2 separate regions of the Homo sapiens genome follow, and region 1 is linked to region 2. The links come from fine-mapping of genetic effects on gene expression. A gene starts in region 2. The other region holds a variant in brackets. All regions are shown on one strand. Distances are from middle to middle.

Region 1 (8,000 bases), 64 kb before region 2:
AAGTGGTTTTGGGAACCCTCTGCACTTGCAGGTGTTGTCAGAAGTGAAGGTGAGCTTGTGCAGAGGACTGGCCCTGTAAATCTTGCAGTTTGGCTAACTCTGGGTATATTGCCCCAGCTGCGTTATTTATTAGTTGTCTGCCCTAGGACCAGTCACCTCAACCTTCCATGCCTCAGTTTACTCTACACAATACATACTCACTTGCCCTGCCTACTTTTTTAATAATCAAATGAGAAAATGCAATGTGAAAATATTCTAAAGACACATTATCACAGAACATTAATTAACATTCTGGAAATTAAAATGAAGGTAATTTTAAAAAGAAATTCATGAAAATATAGCTGAGGAAAGAAGTGAGGCCCCAGATTTCCCAGGCACTCTTACCTGGGGGTAACCTGAGTGATGTCAGAGGGATGTAATATTCTACAGGTGGTGAAAGTGAATGTTGAGTTTGTGCACGACAGGCACTTTCCTGGGTTGGCGGTTGCAACTGAAATAGATTTTTAGGGAGCAAATACAAGATTGAAAGTCTAGATTAATAATGTAAAAAGCTCATCATTATTTATTAATAATATAGCATTTATCAAGTACCTTTTGTATTAAAAATCCCCAAATCTGGAAATGAAATAAATATACATAAAGATTGTACTAGTATCAACTGGTTAGTATATAGGTGAATCCAATACTTTAAAACTGTAAAGCAAAAGGCATAAACAAAGATTAGAAATGAGAAAACTGAAAAAATACATTAAAAAAATCAAGATCTAGTATCCAAATGATTCAGCCAAATTTATCTACTCTAGTGGTTCTCAAAGTGTGGTCTGCAGACTCTGTGGGAGTCTACATGTCAAAGCTACTTTCATAGTAATGGTAAGACAGAGGCCTTTTCTTTTTGACTGGGTTGACATTTGCACTGCTGGTGCAAAAGCAATGGAAGGCAAAATTGATGGCTCCTCAGCACAAAACAAGGCAATATCACCAAGTTGTACTAGTCTTCTTTATTGTTATGCACTTGGTATTTTTTAAAAAGCCATATTCACTTAAGAATGTCCTTGAAGTAGCAGTAAAAATTATCTATTAAATTTTGGATCTTGGCCGTTGAGTCTTTTTCCTGTTCTGTGTGATGAAAAATGGGAAGGATGTATTAAGCACTCTTGCTGCACACTGAGATACAGTGGTTATCTAGAGGAAAACACTTGTGCAACTGATTTGAAATTTTCTCATGGAATACCATTTTTACTTGAAAGAACTAACAGACAAACTATAGTAATTCAGACTTGGGTGAAAGACAGACATGTTAAAAATGAATGAAGTGAGCCTGTCCTTCAAGAAAAACAGCTAACAAAATGTGAGCTTTCAAGAAAAAGTGAGTTTTGGAAAACTCGTATCCACCACTGAAAGCATGAACATCCTTGAAGACTTTTCTGATGAGTAGGTGGTGATATTAATATGATTTTAATATTTTTACGTAATAAAATGTGCCAATATTTGGAAAATCTGCATAACTCCATGAACCAATCAACATTTTCTAAATGACCAACGCATGATCTTAAAAATCAAGCATGGCTCAAAGATATATTCAAAATGTAGGATACGACCAATGCATTTAATTTAATTTTTTTTTTTTTTTAGTAGAGACAGGGTTTCACCATGTTGGCCAGGCTGGTCTCAAACTCCTGACCTCAGGTGACTGCCCACCTCGATCTCCCAAAGTGCTGGGATTACAGGTGTGAGCTACCACACCCAGCCTGACCAATGCATTTTAATGTTAACAAAGTAATGAAAAGTTCATTGTTAGGGTTTCAGATCTCACATTGCTACAAACGTTCAAGAAACTACTACTTACCTAGTTTTAGTGTAATATCAAAAAATAGCTACACATATCTGAAAAGACTATTAAAACACTCTTTCCAACTGCATGTTTGTGCCTGGCTGCATTTCCTTCATATTGTTCAACTGAAACAACATATTGCAATAGACTGAAGGCAGATGCTGATAATGAGAATAAAGCTATTTTGTATTAAGTCAAAAATTAGAGACTTGAACAACTGTTTTTCTCACTATGTAAAAAAATTAGCTATTTTTCATTAAACATATTTGTGTAACACAATTATTTTAAATGAGTTAATACATATTTTTATGGTTTTTCAGTTTTGATTTATGATATATTAAATGTCAATAGATATAACCTGCACAGATAGGCTCTCTGGAATTCTCAATGATTTTTTAGAGTATAAAGAGTTTCTGAGCCCAAAAGGTTTGTGAACCACTGACTTGAATTCATCCAGCTCTCTACCCAATCTACTAACGCAGGCTGGCTAAGATAAAGTGGAGAGAATTAGGAATGCCACTAATGCTATAGATTTTCATTATCTGATATGCAAGATTAAGTACCCTCCAGTGAGCAGAGGTAGCCAGCTGACTGTCTAGTAAGTCAGAATGCAAAGTACTTCTGGTTATTATACCATATTCAACCAGACACTCTTCTCACCTGTAACTGGTCCACCTGCTGAAGTAATGGGTGGCAGGAAGATCCCTGTTACTGGCTTGGATGTTGAAAGTTTCTCTTCCACTTCAAGAGGTTGCTGAACCTGAAAAGTAATACCCTCCTCTTCATCCTCTTCTAAATCTGAGATGTGATAAATAGCATCCCCGGGCAACTGGGTAAAGCCTTTAGTAATGACACCTGGTCGTGGATCAAGGATGGTTCCCAAGTTTGGTTGAGCAAGCTGCTGCCAGTGATACAGAGTTTGTGATCCTGAATATGCAAAACAAAGGAAGGGGAAAGGCATGTTTTACATTTCCCACAAATCTTAAAACACAAGCTAAAATTATATGTGTAATAACAATAATGACAGCAATAAAACTATTTATTTGGTGTTAATAATTTGGTAAAAGCTGCAAATTAAAGTTTTCAGTGGAAGATGACAAGATGTCAAAGGTATGAGTCATAATCTGTTTTAATAGTTAAGGAGGACACCTAAAGGGGTGAAAAAAAACCCAAGGAGACACCCTTAATAGGAAAGGAGCTTAGCTGCTGAGGCAGTGATGGAAGATACGTGCCTAAGAGGTGGGCTGTATTTTCCCAGGTGACAAAAAAGTCAATACTTCTCTGGCCTGGAACTATGCCTATGAAGGTGAAAGTCAAAAGCCAGGCTCCCAGGGAGAATAGGAAAATGAAGAAGATAATGAAAAGGAGGATATGTTCTACTGGTTCCAGGCTACAGAACCCTGGTGAATGATCATCCCAAGTAATTGCACCAGATGCAATGTCTAATTATGTCACTGTAGTCATTTCATCCTAAAAATGGCAACTCCAACAAATATCTGCACTGATCATTAATGAATACAACTAAGTTATAAAATCTTTGAGTTTGAGGGGTCTTTATAAGTTACACACTCAAAATTTCATTTAATGCAGAACTCTTTTAGGATAATATCAGAGAATCATTCAATGATTGTCATTGTTCCAGAAAATGAAGGAATTTATTTTGAATTCAAGCTCTTTCTTAGGAGAGTATAGAAACTAAACTGAAAAAAGGAAAAATACAGGTACACACACACCTCTAAGTCAATTATACTTTTGGGTAAAAAACTCTTTTGAAAAGGAAGGTGGAGATGAATTATTATCTCTAGATCATTATCATTTATCATATCTTATTCATCTAACCATGGAAACTGCTGTCAATGATATTCCTTAGCAAAGGACAGAAAAAGATTACTCCTCTTCCCTGCTCACGTTTATATTAAAAAACATCAGAAGAGAACTGCTGGCTGATGATTCAGAGAATGCAACTCTCTTCATTCATTAATTTTCCACAAAGTACTACAGTCTTGCCACCCAAACAGCAAGATTAAGGGATAAAAAGATCATCTGCACATAATGTTCCTATAATTAAGACACAAATCTCAATTCCAGGGAAAGGAACTTCCAGTAAGTCACATGGCTTAGTAAGGGCCCTTACTGATTTATTACCTTCAAGGGGCTTGACAATTTGTAATTTTTCTGGCATAAAACCTCGAAGGCAACTGGCACTGCTGAGGTCTGTGATCTCTGACTGGGTGGTGCAGAGAGAGGCAAGGCTCTCTGTCGGGGTGACACAGCCACTAACTCCTTCCTTCTGGTCTGCCAGAACCTGGATCTTCCGCTGCCATTCTTCAGCAAAGAACTGCTTCTCACTTAAATAGTTTTGTCGACGCAAGCTAAGGCGATGCAGTGCTGTAGCCAAATCACTATCTCCTGAGGGTCCTGGTTGGCCCATCTTCTGGGAGCTCCTATAGGAAAATCGCGTTCACTGATTAGATCTTGAGGATCATCAGCATGACCCAGACCTCTCCTTTCTATAATGGTAAGCATTCAAGAGACTGATATTAAAAACATGATATTTTCCTAGATACCTGGAATATAGAAGTAATAACAACA[A/C]ACCAAAATCACCAACAACACTATATATCATTTTTACAGATCATTGCAAATGACTTGAAAGGCAAGATAATACTTTATTGATATTCTGTGTTTTCTGAATTTTCTATTTCATTTAATTTATGAAACTACACATTCAACCATCTATAAATTCATATTAGGTGGTCACGAAAGTAAATATTATATTTTGCTGAATCTGTATCATAGATTGCAAGAGGTACCATTATTTTATGTATCATAAAGAAGGAAAAAAACGCTACGGATTAAACTAAGGCATACTATCAGTTACAAAACATAATAATTTAAAAAATATTAAAATATGAAAAAAATTTGCTTTGGGTCACAGAATCACCCATCAACACTGCAGAACATTTAAAAGGAAACAACAAAATTTGTATATAATACTGCATTTTTATAGTTGTCTGATGCCCATTTTTTGACTTCAACACTTTTGAAACTGGAAGCTATCTTATAATTGATATCAAATGGAAGATCAGCAAGCTGAGTTGTGGGTACTCTGGGATACTGGGGTATAAATCCACATAAATGTGTTTCAGATCTTCTCCTAAGATAATTGTGTGACAGTGAGGCAGTAGGACACAAAGCTGCTGTGGGTGCAGAACACTGCCCAGGACAGACCAGGCAATGCAACTGAAACCTAGTGTGATGAATTTTTATGTTAGGAAACATTTCCCTTTGGTGCCAAACATCTATCTTGCAAAGCTTTCAGCTCACTTTTCAGTAAAGTTGTTTACCTTCTAGTTATATAGAATTCAATGTACTGAATTAATAAAAGGAATGAAAAAAAAATCCAAGTTTAAATAAACAGAAAATCGACAGCACCTCGATGGTCCTCAAGATGTATTCAAACTTACATTTATCCTAAAAATCACCAAAGCGGTTGAGATTATGAGCACGGATTATGAGAAGGTGTCATCCGATGTATTCATGCTAGTGACCAAACAGATTCAAAAAAATTTGACTTTGGCATGATCTGTCTCATGAATAATGATACAAGGCATCATAAGTGAAGGAAAACTGACAGTTCCAGAACCTTCTTGGGACAGTAGAGTAATGCTGGAATGTGCGTATGTGAATCTGGTGCGGCAATGTGAAAAGAAATGCAGAATCACTGTTATCATCGGATTCCTACCCTGCAACCTCCTCTGAGCTGCTCCCCTGGTTCAGGAGTGATTTGTCCTCTGTTTGCTGAAGACCAGACTCAAAAGGTTTTGCTGTCATGATGACACTTGAACGGTTGGAGCCTGGAATGGGTAACAGAGCTGGGAATGAGATAGAGCGGCCCCGTGTGTCATTGGCAATCCTGACGGTATCAAATACCCGCTTCTGTTGGGCTCTGTCAAAAAAGGAAGTGTTCGTTATTATCACTGCTAGCCACTAAAGCATCTAGAGAAGAGAATGTATGTGCAGTCCATCAGAAATAAAGCCACCCTGAGGAGCTATTTAGGAGAAATCATCAGAAAATAAGCTTTCAAACAAGAGAACTCTCTCACAAAAAAAGGACACTGTGAGGAAAACACTGAATAGTAAGCAAATTACTACTGAATCTCGTAATACTTGCCACTTTGGATTGTGGCTTCTTTTTAATTTCTATTCCAATGATTGAGTAACAACACATGTGACCTGTACTTACTTTTGTTTAAAGAGAGAAGATTCCTCATCCAAACTCAGCTTTTTACGCATAGTCCCCTCAATCTCAGCTGCCAAAGATTCCTAAGAAAAAGAGTTTGAGATTTCTAAAGTGATTGTTGCCCTTAAATTAACAGAGTCTCTACAATCCTATACTTTTGGTTTTATAATAAAATACAAGGAAATAGTCAAGGCTAACATTCAGGGGAAAAAAGACATTCTGGAAATATAACTTTTAAATAAGAACCAACTACCTTTTCATAATCTTTTCAAATAGGAAAGTAGTGGAAAAAGCTGATATGATAAATAGAAAATATATGTGCAGGCACACAAAAACAAAAGGTCTGAAAGGCCATAAACCCAGTGTTGACAGTGATGCTGTGGAGGGTGAGATTTAATGGTATTTAACAATTTTTTTTTTGCTTTTCTGTAATTTCTAGCTTTTCTATAATAATCATGTATAGCTGGCCGGGTGCGGTGGCTCACACCTGTAATCCCAGCACTTTGGGAGGCCAAGGTGGGTGGATCACGAGGTCAGGAGATCGAGACCATCCTGGCTAACATGGTGAAACCCTGTCTCTACTAAAAATACAAAAAAATACAAAAAAAAAAAAAAAATTAGCCGGGTGTGCTGGCGGGCGCCTGTAGTCCCAGCTACTCGGGAGGCTGAGGCAGGAGAATGACGTGAACCCGGGAGGCAGAGCTTTCAGTGAGCTGAGATCGCACCACTGCACTCCAGTCTGGGTGACAGAGCGAGACTCCGTCTCAAAAAAAAAAAAAAAAAAGTAAAAACAAAAATACCAACAAAAAACAATGTATAGCTTTTATAATATTAAAAAATCACTTAAAAAAAAGAACAAGCAAGCTTCCTCTTCCCCCCAGTCAGGGATGAGGACTAAATCTAGTGTTGACAGTGATTCTGTGGAGGGTGGAATTTAATGGTATTTAACGATTGCTTTTTGCTTTTCTGTAATTTCCAACTTTTCTGTAATAAACATGCATAGCTTTTATAACATTAAAAATCATTTAAAAAAAAAGCAAGCTTCCTCTTCCTCTGGTCAGGGGTGAGGACTCAACTAATATGGGTGACATGCTCAGTGGGACTCAGCTGAGGATGACTGGAATTGGAGGCAATGGTGTGAACTCATGATTATATATATTTATATATATATGGATGAAAACATATATATACACATATATAGTATAGGTATAGGTATGAAATACATATATTTCCTAGTCCTACCTGCTGAGAGGGACTAGAAGCCACAATACTCTAGTAGCAATCAATGGGCACACCTAACACCCAGATCTTGGATTCGAAATACAATTCTTCAATAAAAGTAACCAGAGCTCTTTGGAGAAATGGCTGATTCCAGGGCTGAGACAAAAAGTACAAGATCAGCTTAAAGGAGATCCTACTGATCATATCTAGGACAATCTGAATATCCTACATACAGATTGAATATACAACAATAGCTTGTAATCTATTGAATAAAATAGAAATCCATGAGTCCATGACATACCTAAGTGAACAAATGAACAAATAAATGGGACAGGAATGCACTAACTTACAAAAGAAAAATGCCAATTAATAAATGTTGAAAAATGATGAAATTTGAAAATCACCATTTGGCAGTCATCACTGTAATAACTCTGCCAGATAAGAACCATCAATGGGTGCTAAAACTAGTGGGTAATAGTTTGATGAGGAACAGGATACTTAGTCTCAAAGTATCTCTCATAAAATGTTTACTTTGATCACTTGGTTGGGGTAGTATCTGCCGATTTTCATCACTACACGGTGAATTAGTAGTGTTAATTTAATTAACTGTTAATTACCGTTAACTTTACAGTGGAAAAAACCAGCAGATTACCTTAACCAAGAGATCAAAGTTAATTAATACCACCTGCAATGGGCTAAACAGACATT
Region 2 (12,364 bases):
GAAAAAGAAAATTTCAATACAATGACCTCAATTAACAACTGGTCAAACAGCTGTTCATTGAACAGCTTTCAACAAATGCCACTTGAATTAAACCAAAAGTACTAAAAAAAGATAAATAGTAGTATACAACAGCCTCTGCCCAAAGGGAGGTTAAAGATTTAAGAAGTCTAAGCTCCAAAAGGGACAGCTCTAATGATCTGGATTAGATCTAATATCCAATGAGCTAAGAAATCTAAGAAAATAAGATAGTACCAGATAATAAATATTTGATGAGTGTTACAACAGAATTGTCGGGAGAGAGCTCTTTTCTAGCTGAGGTGGTCTGGCTTCACACAGGATGTAAGATTTAAGTGGACTCCCTAAGGAGGAAAAGATTTGGATAGGTGAGGAGACTATCTGGTAGGAGAAAATAATAATGATAATATCCAACAGCAAGTAGCAGACAGAGCCAGGTTGGCAGCATATACAGACCAATTTGAGTGGGAAGAATTATGGGGAAGGTATTTGGAGATTTAAATTTGACTAGTTCAGATTAAGAAGTCTGAACTTGATCCTGCAGGGAACACATTTCTAAATAGAAGTGACATTTGAGAGAAATAAATGTAAATGCAGGATGCAGGATAAATTTTGGAATGGAGAGATTAGAGACAAAAATAATTAGAAAATTTTATCACATTTACGCATGGATTATTTTAATAAAGGTATAAACTAGGTGAATGGAAATTTTAAGAAGGATTTACGGGTTTGTGAGATAGTGAAAACAGGACCTGTTAACTGATGAGTTGGGGATAGATGAACTTTTTCCTCTCCTAAAAGATAACTACATCTGGCATATGCCTCAATTACTCAGGCTTGAAACCTTACAACTTCTCTTGCCCCTCACTCCCCGAGAATTCTCTTCCCCAGACATTTCCCCTCCCTGCAAACTAGCTTCTCCATCTTCCCCAACCACACAACATATTCCAGCCAAAAGAAAGAACTGCATTTACTAGCTTCCTAGACACACCAGGAAATTCTCAGTCCTGTAACTCTGTCCATGCTATTTCTTCTAATTTTAATGTCCTCTCCCCATTCTACATATCCAAATTCTAGCCATGCTTCCCACACCAGCTCAATGCCACTTTTCCCAACAGGCCTTCCCAGAAACCCCAACTTGAAGGAGGTATTGCCTCCGAACACTTTCTGCTCTTCTCTAAAACAGTTTTTAAAACCTTAGAGCTGTTCCTTATCTCCTCTGATAAACTGCATGCCTCTTACAGCAAACATACTTATTTTTGTATTACTCTGCCCTCTTTTCACAAATAAAGAGCTAGATAAATATCATATAGCAACAGCACAGTGTAAAGCCAAGAACACAGACTCTAAAGACAGACTGAGTTTGAATCTTAACTCTGCTGCCTGTTAGCTATGTGATCTTGGACAAGCTACTTAATCTCTCTGTGCTTCAGTATGTTTACGTTTAAAATGAATAGTAGGTATTTCAAAAGGTTGTCAAAGAATTTGGCTTAAATCTGTGTCAGCACCATAAAAGTGTCTATTAAATACATAAGATCACTTTTTAGAGTGGAAAAATCTGAATATTCTGATAGTTGTATAAAGCTTTATGATCTATACAAGGAAAAGCAAAATGTCAAAATAAAGACAGCCTCTGGGTACAAACAGCTATATACAAATTCTTTCCCTATCTTCTTATGTACACCCTAAGGGTTAGCTGTGCCCTTTATAATGTTATATTAACAGTGGCTCTGTTTTAGTTAGACATTTCAATATTCTGGGAAAACTGTTAGTTCAGCATCCTGTGGCACTAGCTACCTTGGTTACCTTGTCTCCGGTCTTATTACCTTTCATTTATCCTTTACAAGTCTTAGTCTTTCTAAAATGCAAATCTAATGCTTTTCCACTGCTACAAACCACCTCCATCCCATCTTCCTTAGGATAAAGTTTAAGCCCCTTGGCATCTCATGTAAAATCTTCCTAATCCAGCCCCAGCCTAGTCTCCAGTTTCATTTCTCTCAACATTTATCTCTTCACCAAAAAACCTCAATCACCTAACCACAGCTTAAAGGCTTTTTGTATGTCAACTTCTATCACCTAACCACAGCTTAAAGCCTTTTTGTATGTCATTCCTTTTGCCTAGAACACCTATTTGTTAGTTTGCTAGGGGTTCCATAAAAAACTACCACAGACTGGGTGGCTTCAACAACAGAAATTTATTTTTTCACAATACTGGAGTCTGGAAGTCCAAAATCAAGGTGTTGGCAGGTTGGTTTCTCCTGAGGCCTCTCTCCTTGGTCTTCTTGATGAATCCTCACATGGTCTTTCCTTTGTGTGTGCAACTCCTGTGTCTCTTTTTGTGCTCAAATTTCCTTCTTATAAGGAAAACTGTCAGACTGGATTAGAACCCACCCTAACGGCTTCATCTGAACTTAATCACCCCAAAGCCCTGTCTCCAAATACAGTCACATTCTGAGGTTACGGCTGTTAGGGCTTCAATATAATTTTGGGAGGACACAATTCAGCCCATAACAACCCCTTCCCCTTTTCTCTGCCCAGGCTAATTCCCATTTGTTTTCCCAAGACTGGTCCAAGCCTTCCCACTCCAGAGTAACTTCAGTGTTCTTTCTCTGTGCTCCCAAAGTACCTCGGCAAGCTGTGATCCCATTGCTCAACACACTATGTTAATTGTCTCTTTCCTTCTTCAAACTACATTCCTTAAGAGCAAAGACTAAATTCCTAGCATTGGCACAGTGTGTGGCACACAGAAGGTGTTTAATAAAGATTTGATCACTGAAGGAAAATGAAAGAAAGAACAGGAACCTTGAAGTACGACAAGCATGGGTTCAAATCCTGATTCCACAGTTTACTTATCTGTGACTCTGAGCAAGTCATTACATGCTGAACTTCCATTTTAAATAAGGTAGTTGTAAAGACAAATGACTAACTCATAATGAAAGCACCCAGCTGTGGGGCTGGTACACAGTAGGTTCTCAATAAATGTTAGATTACAGATTTTGATCTTGTCTTCTCTGACACTCAGTACTACCATGTAGTAGCTACATGACCTTTGGTATATTTACTATCTTCTCTTTGCTTTAGTTGCCTATCTATAAAAACACCTCAGTGCTATTGTGAGGATAAGTTAATATAGGTAAAACATTATCTAACACATAGTATTACATAAATGTTTCCTATTATTATAAGAACACTGCAGATCTGAACAGATAATGACTCAACTATGAATAATTTAGTTCTTTTAATTACTAAGTCATTTAAATGTGACTATTACCTTTTTGCCTCCTATTTCTTACCAACTAAACAGGATGGTAACTAAAGAGGTTCAAAACTGGTACAGATAATATAATGAGAGCTCACAATAAACATGAAATAAGACATTATCTGTCTCATTCCTTATACTGGTATTTAACATATTTGGGGCACTAAAGCAAAGAAAGTTTCAGTGGAGAATAACACTTCTCTGCTCGTATTTTAATTTTTTTTAGAGATGGCGTCTCACTCTGTCACTCAAGCTGGAGTGCAGTGGTGCCATCATCGCTCAAGGGATCCTTTGATCTCAGCTGGCACTACAGGCACAAACAACCACACCCAGCTATTTTTTATTTTTGGTAGACATGGGGTTTTGCTATGTTGAACAGGCTGGTCTCAAGTCATCCTCCTGCCTCGGGCTCTCAAAGTGCTGAGATTACAGGTGTGAGTCACCACACCCAGCAGGGTCATATTTTTATTTGCAGACTCACAAAACCTGTAAACTGAAAAGAACCTTTTGATAAAAGTCCAGTCTTATAATTTCTTACATAAGTGAGATGGATTTGGAATGGGCTTTTCGGGTCTTACTGAGCAGTTCAGTAAGAAATGGGAATTGTAGGCAGAGAGAATCAGTTTGTTCAAAAGTACTAAAGCAGGGGTTCAGGACTTATTCCAGATGTCCAAGGTGTGTGTTGGAACCAGTCTTAGACAATAACACTAGACAATCCTCTTTAACCACTCAACCTTTAAAGTCTATAATTTCTGAAGTACGTATTAGTTACCTGATCTGTGACTTGGAAGCAAGGCAGATCTAGATTTAAATCTCCCCTTGTTACATAAGCAAGTCTTTGAGCCTCAGATTAGTGTGATAGGTTTGTTAAAGTGATTAAGTGAGCTAAAGTATGAAGAGCTCCCACCTGGGGTGCCTGGCAGATTGCAAATACTAAAATGTTGGTTCTTTTTTTTTTTTTTTTTTTTTGAGACTGAGTTTCACTCTTGTTGCCCAGACTGGAGTGCAATGGCTCGATCTTGGCTCACCGCAACCTCCGCCTCCTGGGTTCAAGCGATTCTCCTGCCTCAGCCTCCTCAGTAGCTGGGACTGCAGGCATGTGCCACCATGCCTGGCTAATTTTTTTTTTTTTTTGAGATGGAGTCTCGCTGTTGCCCAGGCTGGAGTGCAGGGGTGCAATCTTGGCTCACTGCAACCTCTGCCTCCGGGTTCAAGCAATTCTTCTGCCTTAGCCTCCGAGTAGCTGGGACTACAGGCGCGTGCCACCACGCCCGGCTAATTTCTGTATTTTTAGTAGAGACGGGGTTTCACCATATTGGCCAGGCTGGTGTATTTCCTTTCAGTAGAGACGGGTTTCTCCATGTTGGTCAGGCTGTTCTTGAACTCTCCACCTCAGGAGATCTGTCCTCCTTGGCCTCCCAAAGTGCTGGGATTACAGGAGTGAGCCACAGCGCCCGGCCAAATGTTGGTTCTTTCTAACAAACCTCTTCCATCATATGAATAAGTGTGTAAGATAACAAAACACTGTCTTTCACATGGTATGTGCTTGCTAAATGTCTGAGACTTGCTGGACATTACTTAATTTTAAAAATAGAAAACTGGAGCTGGGTGTGGCGGCTCACGTCTGTAATCCCAGCACTTTGGGAGGCCAAAGCGGGTGGATCATGAGGTCAAGAGATCGAGACCATCCTGGCCAACATGGTGAAACCCCATCTCTACTAAAAACACAAAAATTAGCTGGGCGTGGTGGTGCGCGCCTGTAGTCCCAGCTACTCTGCAGGCTGAGGCAGGAGAATCGCTTGAATCCGGGAGGCGGAGGTTGCAGTGAGCCGAGATCACCCCACTGCACTCCAGCCTGGCGACAGAGCGAGACTCTGTCTTAAAAAAAAAAAAGAAAAGAAAGTTGGAATAACTGCTAGGATGATAAAATGTCTTCATCCCTGACCTTTCTCACCTCCAAATGTCCTTCACAATTTGTTTTTAAGTGTCATGTCACCACCATTAACCTGCTATTTGGAGACTACTGTACCTCAGACTTCCAAGTCAACAGCAAAGATCTAAAGGTCGGGAAGATTTACGGAGACCAAGAACTGAAAGTGTTCCTTTTGTTCCTATGGTCCATTCCATCAACTTGATGAATATCCTGTGAAGTTACCTTTTTTTTTTTTTTTTCTGACGTAGAAACAGCAGGTCTAAGCAAAAGGTGCATGAGCAAGAGCAAGTAACATCCCTATTATTATGACGCAGATTTTTTTTTAAGTTGAAATTCAATTTTTGGGCTGCTACTAAAAAGGACATGTGCGAATATCTATTATTTACGCTTCAAACTAAAGTCAGCCGTTTTTCTTTTTCAAGATATGTGGCATCTGGCTCAAAATCAATTGCAAGAAAAGCCCAACTCTATTTGACCCAGAAAGAGCTCTTTCCAATACCCTCTCCTCCCACTTACATCACAGATGGCGACTGAAGCTTAAGGTTTAATGCCCGACCCTAAAGCCACTCATCCTAAAAGACAGGGCTCCAGATGGATGCTGTATGGCAGAGGATAAGGCGCTATGAGAAGCTGCCAAGCCTCAGATGTGCAGCTGGGCTGAATACCGACGCCAGCGCCTAGCGCCCATTACTTTGCACCCACACTTAGGAAACAACCCACGCCTCACCGCGGGACCCGGACCCAGCCCTCCAGCACCCAGCCTCCGGCTCCGACGTCCGCGCGTGACCTCCGGGTACCGGAGGACCTTGGGACGAGGAGGTCCCTCCGCTTTCCGGGGAAGTTGTCAAGGGCAAGTTCGGGTTCTGCGCGGACAGCTTACTCACTGGAGTGGTTCGGCATCCTCTGTCGTCCGCCCGCGCTTCCTCAGGAAGCCCCTAATGCAGCGGCAGCCTGAAAGCAGCAGCCGAAGCTGCTGCCGCTGCTCCCACTGCCAGCAACCGCCCGGGCGTGGCAGGGACAGGCGGGCGACTTCACAACATCATCACTCGGCGACCTCGGTTCTGCGGCGACACCGGGTCAATGGCAGCCCCCACACAATTGGGGAAGCCAAAGGAGAGCCACTCTCCCAGCGGCCTCCACGGCCCCAGCGCAAGACCTGCTGGGAATTGTAGTTTCCTGCCCGCCCCGCCTCAAGCTCGAAGGCCCCGCCTTCTCGCTGCCCAGCCCCGGGGAGGGAGGCGGGGCCGCGACCCCGGCGCGGGTGGGGCGAATGCGTTCCCAGCGGGTAGCCTGGGACTGGTGCAGAGTTCCAAGCCCACGGCCCCGGTCGCGGCCTCGCCGCCCTCCCGCGCCCCGCGCCGGGAGCGGGCCTAGAGCGCTCGCCTCGCCCCTCCGCGAGCAGGGCTCTGGCGCCCGCCCCTGTCCGCACCGCTGGCAGCCTGAAGAGAGTCGCTGGCCGTGGTCGCCGCTAGGGTAAAGACGGGAGGCAGGCCCGGGAAGGGAAGGTGTCGGGGCCGGTGGGGGACGTGTGAGGGAGTGAGCCTTGGTCCGCGCACGCCCGGGAAGCCAGAGGCCAGAACGCGCTAGCCCACCTCCAGCCCGAGCACCGGCGGCTGGCGGGAGCCGTGGCAAGAATGCGGCCCGAGGTGGCGAGCAGCCACTGCGCCAGTGCAGCTCGGGCTCAGCGGGGCCCGGGCCGCGGGTTCGCAGCCCGCCCAGTGGTGCCTGCCGGGTTGGCCGTGCCGGCCGTGCCAGGTGCGCGGGGCCCAGGCCGCCCGGGCGCCCTCTCCCCGCACCCCTCACCTTTGGCCGCGCTCTCGGGCTTGGGGAGTTGCCATATCGAAGACACCCTCAGACCCCAGCTCTATCTGCCGCCTTCTGCAAGTTCGCTGCAAAGTCCCCCATAGCAGGACTAGGAAGGAACCTTTTACAAAATTAAATACTCGAGTGTCGTTTTGTCTTCGGTTTTTCAATTCAACGCTGTGTTTTTCCCTGCTGGGTCTTTGTCAAGTACCTTTTCCCCAAAACTTGATACGGATGTGTAACACGGCGCCTGCTTAGCACGGTGCCTGGCACCCAGTAGGCGCTCAGTAAAGATTTGTTGAACGCATGAGTCACTAAGCTTGGAAAATTCTCCTGAACTGTGCGTCGCTATGATCTTTGTTAAGATTTTATGGGTTCCCAAGATCACTTTGAAAATTACAGTAATTTTAAAGCTCAACAAAGAGTTACATCGGGTCATTTTTGCATTCCCTGTAACAGTGGCCTCTGTTGAATGCCTAAATTAACTCAAAACCCGTGTTCTAGAAGATGCGCCCTTTGGTTTCTACAGAAAGTGTTAATCTTTCAGATCAAAGTCTTCACATGAACCATTCTATTATGGAACAAACTGAAATTACTTATAAAGCTTTATCGTAATTAGCGTTTTGGATACAAGTGTAAGGGACTGCACTGATGTACTTGTGAATACGAAATATAAGTCTCTTAAATATGACTTTTTTTTAAGAAAGGGTTTATATTCATATCTCGTGAAAGAGCATGCCGGAGAAAATTATAATAACAGCAAATCCCCCACCCCCACCCCTTTGCTGGGTGCAGCTGCTGCCTTGACCTCAAAATGTCTTGTAAAATTATCTCTTAATAGTCTGGTGTATCTAAGGCAAAAATCTCTGAGATTAAACCACCCCATAGGGACAACCCTTTTATTACTAACAATTCTTACCAGATTGTGTCTGTTTCTTCTGAGCTTTTCTGAAAAAGAGAAAAAAATAGACAACGTAATGGAGTTTCACATTATTAAGACAAAATCAGTAACAACTTGCTGACATTGAGTGAAAAAAGCAGGATACAAAATCATGATAACCAGAAAATTTGGTTAATCATGACATCCATAACCCTTCTGCTTGTGGGAAGGTCAGCTACAAGTGGCCAGGGTCTTGTCTGCCCTGATTACCAGCGGGTGTCCACAGTGCCTGACCCATGGTAACCACTCATTAAACACTTGTGTAATGATTACTTGGCTGTTAACAGATTAACAGTGTATTGACTATGATGTGTAGTTTCTTCATTTACTTGGATATCTCCTTAGAATAGATCACTCCGGGGAATTTTACTGGGTCAAAAAGTATGAATATTTTCATGGTTATTGAAACATTTGACAACCTGCTTTCCAAATAAACCTTATAGTTTTGTACTGCCATCAGTACATTTGAGTGTACCTTTCAAAGCATAGTTCAAGCTGATACAGTGTTTGCTAATTAGGGGCACTTTGAGATGTAACTCATTTGATTTCATTCACCCTGGAAGGTTGGCAGGGCAGGCATTGCTTTCCTCCTTTTGCAGCACAGCAAACTCCAGTGCTTTAAATTGACGGTAATGAATGGTAGGTGGCTAAATGATCACAGCCTTTCAGGTCCGTCTTCCTCCCAATCTCTACCTTTGGTTCATAGTGAACATCCTGAATAAATTCACCTCTTTCTTTAGCAATAAAATTGGATATTGCTTTATGGTTTTTATGGTTTACAAAATCTTCCCTTTCTCATCCTGCTCACATATTTGTAGATGGGTTCATCAAATTTGGGGAGTTGAAATAATGAAGCACAATTTAGATGAAAGAGATGATGTTGGTTAGATGTAAAGGGATGCTCTGAACCCACAAACTTACAAGATTGCCACCCTTTCTATTAGTAAAGGTCTGGAAACCGTGGATGGTGCTTTTGTATCTCCTTGAATTAATTTCCTAGTCTGTTATTCTGATTCTTTCCCATATTTGCTGGTCAGGGACCCCAAATGATTTAATACGTAATTAATCCAATAAGAAAGGGCTTTGGAAAGTCTCAAAGTTTAGTTGTAATATGTGGAACCATTGAAAATTCTTGGGGTTTATTGTAAGTGACACTGTTTATATCAAAAGTGGGCCAAAAATTGGTTTTCTACATTGCTTTCAAATTTGCTCAGCGTTCTTTAAAAAACAAACAAAAAACAGTATAGAAAAGATAGGGAAGGAGAAATGCAAACATATTGAGGCTTTGGAAATATTCAGGACTTCTTTTTGTTTTCACTCTGCTTCTTGGTTGTGATGTCAGATCACAAATAATGTTCAGTAAAAAATAAATGCTCTTTAAAGATACTTTTCAGGAATGTCTCCTTGTGTCAAGGAGTAGCTGCCTAAATATTGGGTATCAGGGAATAGCTGCCTAAATATTGGATGGGTTTAAGGCAACTGGTTCTTTAAGGAACTTTTATGTGAATCTAAATTATTTTGCTTTTGTTTTTTATAGTAGGATATATCTGCATCTTGAAAGGAAGATAAAACAAAAGCCTTCTTTGGAATAGATGGATTTTTGTCACTTTCTGTGTGAACTAAAGTGATTCAATGTCTCTTTTGGTAAGTTTTTGTAAATATAGATCTGATTTTGTTCTGTCAGAGTAGTTGGATGTTAATGCCAAGCCATAATAAAAGGCATATTCTGATGGGATATTCTTATGCTCTGAGATATTGTTTTGACCTGATTGACTTCTGGACTTGAGAAATGAATTACATTCTCATTGAGTTTTTCTTTCTTTCATAAAGAACTTCTCGTATACTTCAATATGTTCATTATTCTAATCTTTTGTCCCATATCTACTTTTTCTCATAGGTGTTATACTTTGATATGCCACCCACACCAGTTAGCTATGCCTTATCTTTTAAATCTTTCAGAAATTCCTTTTACAAATTTCCATCTGACCAAAAGCAAGCCAAACAGTATTAAAAATAACCCCTTTGACTTAACCGAAATAAAATCATTTGGATCAATGTATATATGAGGTATAGCTGCCAACTGGTTTTCTATTTATATTTAGATCCGTGGTATCTACTTTAGATTAAGTAGCTTGAGGACTTTCATCCTGTTTTATACATAATAATAATATTTGAATAGGGAATACTTATATTAAAATGTGGTTTTTAAAAAAGTAATGAGTAGACCACGTGTAGTGGCTCACACCTGTAATCCCAGCATTTTTAGGGGCCAAGGCTAGAGAATCAGTTGAACCCAGGAGTTCAACACCAGCCTAGGCAACATAGTGAGATCCTGTCTGTATAAAATATTAGCCAGACGTAGTGTCATATGCCTGTAGTCTCAGCTACTCAGAGGGTTAAGGTGGGAGGATCCCTTGAACAAGGGATCAAGGCTGCAGTGAACTGTGATCATGCCATTGCATTCCAGCCTGGGTGATAGAGGGAGATCCTGTCTCAAAAAAAAAAAAGGATGAGTATATTTGTATGATGATTTATAGTTTACAAATACTTTCATATATTTCTTTCATAGTTTCAAATTGTGTAAGTTTAGCAGGGCAGGTGGCATTATCCTCATTTTCAGTTTGTCCAAGATTGCAAAAAGTTGGAGCCAGACTCATACCTGCCAATCTATTCTATCAATTACCAAGGCTGAGAGGCAGAACTATGAAGTTAGAAGACTGGATTGTTAGTAATATGGAAAATACATAACACAGTTACTTACATGTTTAAAGTAAAGCATTACCACTTGAAAGAGAAGCTTTATATATCTGGAAAATACACGGAGGTGAAATGTTTTATTCTGTAAAGGAGGGATCAGCAAGCTTTTCTGTAAAGGCCAGATAGTATTTACAGACCCTTTGGTCTTTGTTACAGCTACTTTTCTGCTGAAATACTAGCATGAAAGCAGCCATAGGCAATATATAAATGAATGAATGAATGTATCTGTGTTCCAGTAAAACTTTACTCACAAAAACAGGTGGTGGGTCAGATTTGGCTCATGGACCATAGTTTGCCGACCCTTACTCTAAAGGATTACTTAAGATTTACAATTTTATATCAATTTTTAAGTTGGAAAAGATGTGAAAGGGCATTCAGTCTATTCCCTTCATTTGATAGGCGAGAATTGTGAGATTCAAAGGGCTGTGTGTTGCCCAGGGCTTTCAAATTTTGGAAAAAGAATATCTTAGCCTATTATTCCATAATTATGGGTTTTGTGAAAAATAATAGAATGTGATAATGGGTGATTTATATCGTTAATGATTGTAACTTTAAATCACATTTTTCTGCAATGGTGAAATATTTTAAATTCTTTGAATCGAAATATTTACTTTTTTTCCTTAAACGAGAAATTTGTGCAGTTGGGATAAAGTTGATACTTTTACTTAAGGATTCCTCCCCATTCAAGTTTTACCCTCTATTTGAGAACTAAGAAATGCTGTTTTCAAAGGAGCAGCATATGTAAAAATATCTTCTTTCAGTTTCTTTGTAAGGTCTAACTACTTTTTACTTGGCTATTATGATAATGGATAAAGAAATTATATTCAAAAATATTCAAAGGGAAAAGGTATGTGGGGTGAAGTTCAGAGGAAACCAGGCACAAGCTTTCAAGAATCTTTTCTCAGTGGAGTTCCATAGTATATGCACAGTTCCCCCAGAGTTGTGACATGTGAAATGTTGTCTACTAGGGAAGCTCATTAGAGACTTGGACTTAAGGTTTTTATTGGGGACTTGTCACGTAGGCGTGCTCTGCTAGCAAGTAACAAAATTCCAGTCTCCCAGAAAAAAAGCCAGGTGTTCAGCATAAACTGTATTATTTGCACAAACAGTTTAGACACAGTGAGCGATTCTTATGAAGGGAACCTCTGCAAAATCCCAGTTCCCAGATACTAGCCAAGGGTCAACCTTATAAGCAGCTATTTTCTAAGAATAGCAGTTTTAGGCCTGCTGTTAATTCTTCTTTTGCACAGTGGTATTAATGGTCGTTGTGAAAAATTCAAGCTAAATGTTGTAAAAATATATAAATACCAAACAATATATAAATGTCCTGCCCAGCTGGTGGATATTTTCAATATGAACAACAGTAATAAGTATCTTCAAAAACTGTTTTATTATAAATGTTATTCACCCTAGGAAGCCATTAGAAACTCTGCAGAGGAATCAGTTGTACAGCTATCTTGACATTGTTAGCGTCTATTCTTCAGGGTGAGTTTTACATAAAACAGTGGGAATATATACCAAATTTTTGTAATAGATTTATAAAGTATACAGACTGTAGGAATTCAAGTTAAAATAATCAGTAATGAAGGCTAACTGGGACAATGACTAGTTTGATTAGTGAGAAATTCTGGCATATCTTAAAAGGAAATTTATATTT

Evidence for each region.
Region 1: its variant is fine-mapped to the expression of STRADB in whole blood (INTERVAL, PIP above 0.99).

What each region holds. Positions count from the first base shown.
Region 1 is chr2:201,383,727-201,391,726 of GRCh38, forward strand. It overlaps TRAK2 (trafficking kinesin protein 2), which reads right to left. Exons shown (of 16, transcript NM_015049.3): 11 at 6,075-6,154; 12 at 5,574-5,777; 13 at 3,977-4,275; 14 at 2,492-2,758; 15 at 385-490. Among named protein-coding and RNA genes, the nearest start is that of FLACC1, 30 kb to the left of the region's middle. The variant A/C (reference allele first, on the strand shown) is at 4,424.
Region 2 is chr2:201,445,259-201,457,622 of GRCh38, forward strand. STRADB (STE20 related adaptor beta) reads left to right here and starts at 6,482. Exons shown (of 12, transcript NM_018571.6): 1 at 6,482-6,680; 2 at 9,488-9,594. The coding sequence starts at 9,583. TRAK2 (trafficking kinesin protein 2) reads right to left here and starts at 6,200. Exons shown (of 16, transcript NM_015049.3): 1 at 6,092-6,200. RefSeq lists enhancers at 5,555-6,409, 5,813-6,342 and a silencer at 6,373-7,052.